Linked DNA regions of Homo sapiens. The protein of the gene in region 1 purifies or fractionates together with the protein of each later gene. This does not show direct contact. Each region holds a gene or a part of one and is shown on either strand. Other genes may lie near its edges.

Evidence for each region.
Region 2: the proteins of CFAP45 (region 1) and SAR1B purify together in Homo sapiens (affinity purification with mass spectrometry; one large-scale study listed by BioGRID and IntAct). This does not show direct contact.

Annotation. Positions count from the first base shown.
Region 1 is NC_000001.11:159,886,666-159,890,165, reverse strand, and holds part of CFAP45 (cilia- and flagella-associated protein 45), read left to right. Parts: intron 1-1,669; coding exon 1,670-1,814; intron 1,815-2,154; coding exon 2,155-2,325; intron 2,326-3,476; coding exon 3,477-3,500. UniProt on the Homo sapiens protein: Microtubule inner protein (MIP) part of the dynein-decorated doublet microtubules (DMTs) in cilia axoneme, which is required for motile cilia beating.
Region 2 is NC_000005.10:134,601,829-134,605,328, reverse strand, and holds part of SAR1B (small COPII coat GTPase SAR1B), read left to right. Parts: 3' UTR 1-3,500. UniProt on the Homo sapiens protein: Small GTPase that cycles between an active GTP-bound and an inactive GDP-bound state and mainly functions in vesicle-mediated endoplasmic reticulum (ER) to Golgi transport.

The DNA.
Region 1 (3,500 bases):
CCATTAGTACCCTCCCTAAAGGGAAGTGATCCAGATGAGTCACTTCCTTTCGGCTGCATTAAGAATCTGAAGCAAAGGGAAACTGACCAGATGCCTAATTAGCCCCCTGGCTTCCTCCCAGACTCTAAGGCCATAGGAAGAAATTCACAGGGGCTCCCTGGGTTCCTTTGGGATTAGCTCAACCCCACTTCCTGACTAGAGCTGCCCCCAGGCTTGAGCCCATCCTGTGGGACTTAGGCCTAGCTCAACCATGTGCCATGAGCCAACACTGTGCTCAGTGGTTTAACTCTTGTGTTAGTGCTTCACCCTCTACAACCGTTCTCCCTGCCCTGGCTCCACCCACTAAAAGCCCTAATTCCCAGAAAATCCTACCTGTGTCACAAGCTGGAGAGGCACATCTAGCACACACCCCGGGAGCTGTGTCGGACTGCGGCCCCTTACTGAGCATGTCTGGTCAGCCGTGGCATCAAGTGGCCAGATGTGGCTAGAGCCCTGCAGCCACTCCTGGAGCCAGAGGAAGGGAGGAAGGGTTCCTTCTTGGAGCCATCTAGTCCTGAAAACACGTTGGAGGACAAGTGGCTGGTTATTTTTCAGGGATGCTGAAAGCAGTATAAACTGCTGTCTTAGATTCGGATCACTGCTGGTCACTCCAGATCCTAGGCTGTTTAGGGCCACGTTGCTTTGTGAAACACAAGATCTTGGCTAAGCTGCAAATCTACTCACTCATTCTGTCCATCTCCTGGACCACCCTCCCCCAACACACACACATTAGTTTTATTAGATGAGGTTTCACTTCCTGTCTCAGATGTCTGTGTCTTATTGGCATGTACCTGTCAAATTGGCATGTACCTGCCTCACCCAGAAGCAGCTTTCTTCCCACCCCCCTAACTACTCCCTCCCCCATCTTTAATATATGTCATTTGCTTGTAATCATTATAATTAGCGATTGGTTTGTTGAATGCGTTGGATAGCTAGAAAGGAGAGGTCTATAGACATGTCTCTGGCTATTGTTGATCACAGATTTTAATTAATATTTACAGTTCAAAGCTTCTCTCTAGGCTGGATGGGCAGGGAAGCTTAGGTTTCTAACTAGCATCTATATCAACCTTGTCTGGCGTCCCCTTGCCGTTTTTATGTCATCCTTGAGGAATAATCTGTTTTTAAAATTTAATTCAACAGCTTTGTTTTGAATTCTCACTCTGTACCAAGCGCTATGCCAGAGACTAGGCTACCAGTGTGGTTAAGACAGAGTTTGTGTCCTGAAGGAGCTCATAAAGGAAACAGAGCTGCCCAATTGGCTGTGATACAGGCAGTAAGAACAGAGTGCAGTGTGGGCTCAGAGGAGGAGGTGATCTATTGGTCCTTGGTGGGGGGGCAGAGTGGGCACATGTGGACATGATGGGGGGTCTCAGCTGCACAGAGAAGGTAACATATGAGCAGGACCTAATAGAAAAAGGACTTAAAATGTCTCTTTTTAGCCTTCAATGCTACCTGACCCCCCACTTGGAACATCTACTCCCCAGTGGACCCATGGCACACTTGCCGTCTCTTCTGCCATTGGGGGAGTCCACTGGCATGATGGGAAGAGGGGAAGAGAGCAGAGAAGCCTGAAGTGTGGTGCTGAGAGCTTTCCCTCTCCCCTCCCTAACTCTGTTTATTCTTGTGACAGTGTTCCCACAGAGGATCCCTCCGGGGAGTCCCTAATCATCAGCCCTGAGGAGTTTGAGCGAATCAAATGGGCATCCCATGTCCTGACCAGAGAAGAACTTGAGGCCAGGGACCAGGCCTTCAAGAAGGAGAAGGAAGCCACCATGGTAGTTAACCTCCCTAAGCCTTCACCTCTGCAGATGGGTGGCAGAATCAAAATGCACTGGGGAACTCTCATCAGGGGACCCTGAAATGAGGCACAAATTATGTACTTAATGAAGAAATATTACAGAAAGGAGACCAAAGAGCAATACCTGAGATGAGAGGTGGGAGCAGCCGGGGCCAAGGGGAGGGCTGAGAATGAAGCCAGGCTGTGGAACTTCTTGGCTCTGACATCATCACTGGCCAAGGCAAAATTGTACTGGGTCACCTGTGGTAGCCAGGCTAGCGCCCAGGGCACAGAGCGCATGAAATAATCTCCCACTGAGCCAGACTGGTCTCCCTTAGGATGCAGTGATGACACGAAAGAAGATCATGAAACAGAAGGAGATGGTGTGGAACAACAACAAGAAGCTCAGTGACCTGGAGGAGGTGGCCAAGGAACGGGCCCAGAACCTCCTGCAGAGAGCCAACAAGCTGCGGATGGAGCAGGAGGAGGAGCTCAAGGACATGAGCAAGGTGGGCTCTTCGTCTCTCCCTTCCCTCTGAGCATTCACTGCCATCCCTCCGCCCTCCCCTTATTCCCGCACTGGACAAGGCCAGGGACTGGTGGGGGTGTGGGCAGGGGTGGGGCGGGGGAGAGCTGCACCTGCTGTGGTAGTTGCAGTGATCACAGTGAGGACTGGCTCTGCCACCTGTTCGCTGTGTGACCATGGGCAAGTCACTTGCCCTCCCTGAGCCTCACTTTCTTCATTTGTAACTTGAGGGTGGTAAAACTACTTTGTGGAATCATTGGCAGGATGAAATAAGGTAGTAGATGGGAGAGGCTTTGTGGGCTGAGGATTGGTAAATTAAATGTGCAGTGTTACTTTTATTTTCATCCTGTTAGTTCAGTTCTGGCCACGTATGGTGGTCGAGGCAATTGGATGCTTTTGGAGTACCCAAAGCTTTTCCTTTGGCTGAGAGCCTAAAGACCAGAGGCTCATTTGAATTCTGTTGTAACTCATTTGCATGTGGTTCACTTCCTTACCAAATGAAAAGTGCTGATTCCCCAATCCCTGCACCTCTGATTTCTGTCTCTCAGGTAAATCTTCTCTATGTATGCCTCCTTTAATTTTCTAAAGGTTTTACTTTTGGGTTCTTATTCATGGGCCCGTGGTTTTTCATCCCTTTTGTGTCATGTTGGGCTCTTCCAGCTTAAAAATCTTGTGGCCTGGCCTCTGCAAGAGTGTCTTAGCTCCCCTGAGGAGAACAAGGGGTCCAACCTGGAGTTCATGGGTCTCTAAGTGGAACAATGGACCTCTGAAGTTTTATAGAAATTTTGTGTGTACATGTATAAGTGAGTTTTATGGAGGAGAGGGCCGTTGCTTTCATCATATTTCCAAAGGGTGACCCATTACCACCAAAACCCTAAGATGTAGCTCCCTGAAAGATGCTATTCCAGGCCCCTCCTTGCACAGACCCTGGCACCTAGCAGGAGGCCAGTAAATCTTTGAGCTAAACTATATTAAGGGGAAAGGTAAATATAAGAACATTCTTATTTCCCCGGACTTGTGAGCAGTCATGCACACCTCCAGCATGCTCAGCAGTATAGCATTCTGTTTCCATTTCTTCCCCTTAAACTTACACATCCCTAGGCCTAGTGCTACAGTTTAATCTCCACTCTCCAGATTATCCTCAATGCTAAGTGCCAT
Region 2 (3,500 bases), on another chromosome or scaffold:
GACCCTCAAGTTTAAGATTTATCCTGATTATAAGCCAAGTTTTATAGTATATTTAACCAATTCCATCAAGAATAATTTTAATATCAAAAATTAGTGTTTTCTGTAGCCATTGTCCATGTCAGAGTTACAGTCCTTTTTGTCATTGATAATATAACCTATGAAGCAGATAAGGATTGAGGAATATGACTGGAAGGAATTACTATTTAGCTAAGCTGACAAGGTCGCTTCTTAAGATGACATTTGGTTTCAGTAATCTGACTATTCTGTTTTCACTTTCATCTTCTTTCTAAATGAAAACAAAAGTGCTCCCTCCCTTCCTGGAAACCTCAGTAACACTATGGGAAAAGTAGAACATGACATTGCAGCCTATTGATTTCTTCTTCCAGATAGGTTTAAAGTACTCCTTAAGTTCTGACTAAATAGAACTAAGCCTTATTAAAAATAACTGCCTCTTGTTCATGTTATCTGTACCTTCAGGGACCTGCCTTTCTTCAAGTATTTCCTAGAGTATCTATTATGATACTGAAGAAGCTAATTATTTGTGTTGTAAATGGGTATAAATGAAAAAAAAACATACTGGTTTCTCTAGCCAGGAAAAATGCTTTCTGGTGTAATATATCTTGCTCCAGAACCCTCATTCTAATTGTAACACTAGGATCAAAGAAACAAAGTCACTTTGTGGACCACAGCTAAACTGTGGATATTTTCCCAAAGACATAAGATTTTTATGGCCCGAGCCTCTAGAAAGGAAGCCATGTTTAGGAGCAACCAGCTTTCCTCCCAGCTTTAGGGGGCAGAGTTCCTGAGCCAGAGGACTTACTGTCCAGCTTTGAGAACCTCTCCAGAGTATATGCACTGGGTACTGCTCTTTTTCAAGAGAACCAAATTAAGAGGATGGCAAGAAACAGTAGAAGCACAGAGGAAAGACAACTCTGCATGTGCCTGTGTGAATGTGTGCATCCATGGAGTATTTCCCAGGTAAATACTAGTACTGGGGACATAGGCTAATTGTGTGTCCCACACTGCAAGATGCTAGGGCGTAGTTAACACTGTGGTATACATACAAATCAGGCACTGTCCAAAAGATTTTTTAAAATCTAAAGTCTGAAATGTAAAAATATAAGGTCTCAACCCACTTTTACACTTTTAAAGAGATCCCATACCTGTTTCACTGACTGCCGTTAATTACACTTTTGGATCACAGCTGGTTAAATTGATAGATTTCAGTTTATCTCAGTGAATTTTTAGAATGGAGATTATAGCATTTTTTAATTGGAGAACAGACATTTCCTAAAGTATATGAAAAAAAATTATTCACTGTTGGTTTAAACCAGTATCTTTGTATGAGTGCCAAAGATATATGAACACAGATACTGCCTGTGCAGACCTAAATTTTAGTTTTGTGTACCTGGATCCATATACAAATTTTTTGTGGTTTATAGCATAAAAGCAGAACGTTGTTTCTTTCTTAGTTTTCAACCGGCTCATCTTTTGTTTTTGTTTTTTGTTTTTTTGTTTTTTGTTTTTTTTGAGATGGAGTCTTGCTTTGTTGCCCAGGCTAGAGTGCAGTGGCACAATCTCTGCTTACTGCAACCTCCACCTCCGGGGTTCAAGTGATTCTCCTGCCTCAGCCTCCTGAGTAGCTGGGACTACAGGCGCGCACCACCATGCCCGGCTAATTTTTGTATTTTTAGTAGAGATGGGGTTTCACTATGTTGGCCAGGCTGGTCTCGAACTCCTGACCTCGTGATCTGCCCACCTCAGCCTCCCAAAGTGCTGGGATTACAGGCGTGAGCCGCCATGCCCGGCCAATTTTCAACTGGCCCATACTTTATAGTGATGGAAAGCGCATAAACTACTTGTAAATCATTAAAATAGGGTGATAACTGTGATAATAGTGTTTCTTGCATTCTAGAAAATTATTTTATTAACTACATTCAAAACCCAGCATTTCACAGGTTCCATCATTAGAAACAGTATAGTTCTAGTTAACATGATTGGAGAGTTTCAGGGGAAAGGTTTACATTTTCTGAAACTGTATTTGGTATGTGACTCAATGTGGTATTTCAGTCTTGTTAGTCACTTACATGACTGACGTTTGCAAGGATTTATTGCCAAGTAAAATTTGACCAGAGTGCACTGAGAATAGCTACATAAGGGGAAATCTCTCAAAATTCCTTCTGTTCATTTAATTTGGAGCATATTGTTTAAATCATTTTAAACATATGTAAAAAGTTGAAGCATTAAAAAATCTTCAAGAAACAATGAAAAAATAGAAATTAGCAAACATAAGTTTCTTAATGCAAAATTAATAGTGAATAAAATATAGCCTACATTAAAAGCCAGAGGCTTTGCTATAAATATAAGAGTTTAGAAAAACAGTGTGCTTCAATTAAGGACTAAATTATCAAAACTGCATGTTTGTTTTTTCTTTTCTTTTCTTTTTTTTTTGAGATGAAGTCTCACTCTGTTGCCCAGGCTGGAGTGCAGTGGTGCGATCTTGGCTCACTGCAACCTCTGCTTCCCAGGTTCAAGCGATTCTCGTGCCTCACCATCCCGAGTAGCTGGGATTACAGGTGCACCACACCATGCCCAGTTAATTTTTGTATTTTTAGTAGAGACAGGGTTTCATTATTTGGCCAGGCTGGTCTCGAGCTCCTGATCTTAAGTGATCCACTCGCCTCGGCCTCCCAAAGTGCTGGGATTATACACATGAGCCACTGTGCCCAGCCTAAAACTACATGTTGAAGCTTCCGGTCATTTCCATTATTATCCTTCTTTTGAAATTCAAGTTAGTGCTTTTTAACCAAATAAAAGAAGAACCAGCTCTTGGGATATGTGACTCTGCCTCTGTATAAAGTGACTGGAATTTTGTTAAAACCGTGTTTCCACTTCTGAACCCTGTTACCATTCCCCCTCACAAATCCCCACCCAACACCTGGATTTTAAAGATCCTCCAGTGTCAAGGGAAGCCACAGAGTCTATTAAAGAGGCAGTTCTGAACCAATTAATTTTTGTCCTTATAATTTAGAGCATTAAATAGCTAATATATTTAATGGCACTAATTGTTGTTCACGGCTTTCATCATACTTTTAAACAGAATCCAAAGTATTCAAAGGAAAGTAAGCGAAGTTATCCAAAGCCAACTTTGTTTCAGGTGTGTCCCCTGCCCCAAATAGATTTTAGGGCAGAAATAGAAAACTGAGTTTACACAGAACTATTTTTGGAAAAGCTGCACTGGAGTAGATGGATTCTTCTTCAGCATACTTTTTTGTTTGTTTGTTTGAGATGGAGTCTTGCTTTGTCACCCAGGCTGGAGTGCAGTGGTGTGATCTCCACTCACTGCAACCTCCACCTCCCAGCTTCAAGTGATTCTCCTGCCTCAACCTTCCAAGTAGCTTGGATTACAGGCGTGCGCCACCACAGCTGGCTAATATTTGTATTGTTAGTAGAGACAGGGTTTCACCATGTTGTCCAGGCTTGTCGAACTTCTGACCTCA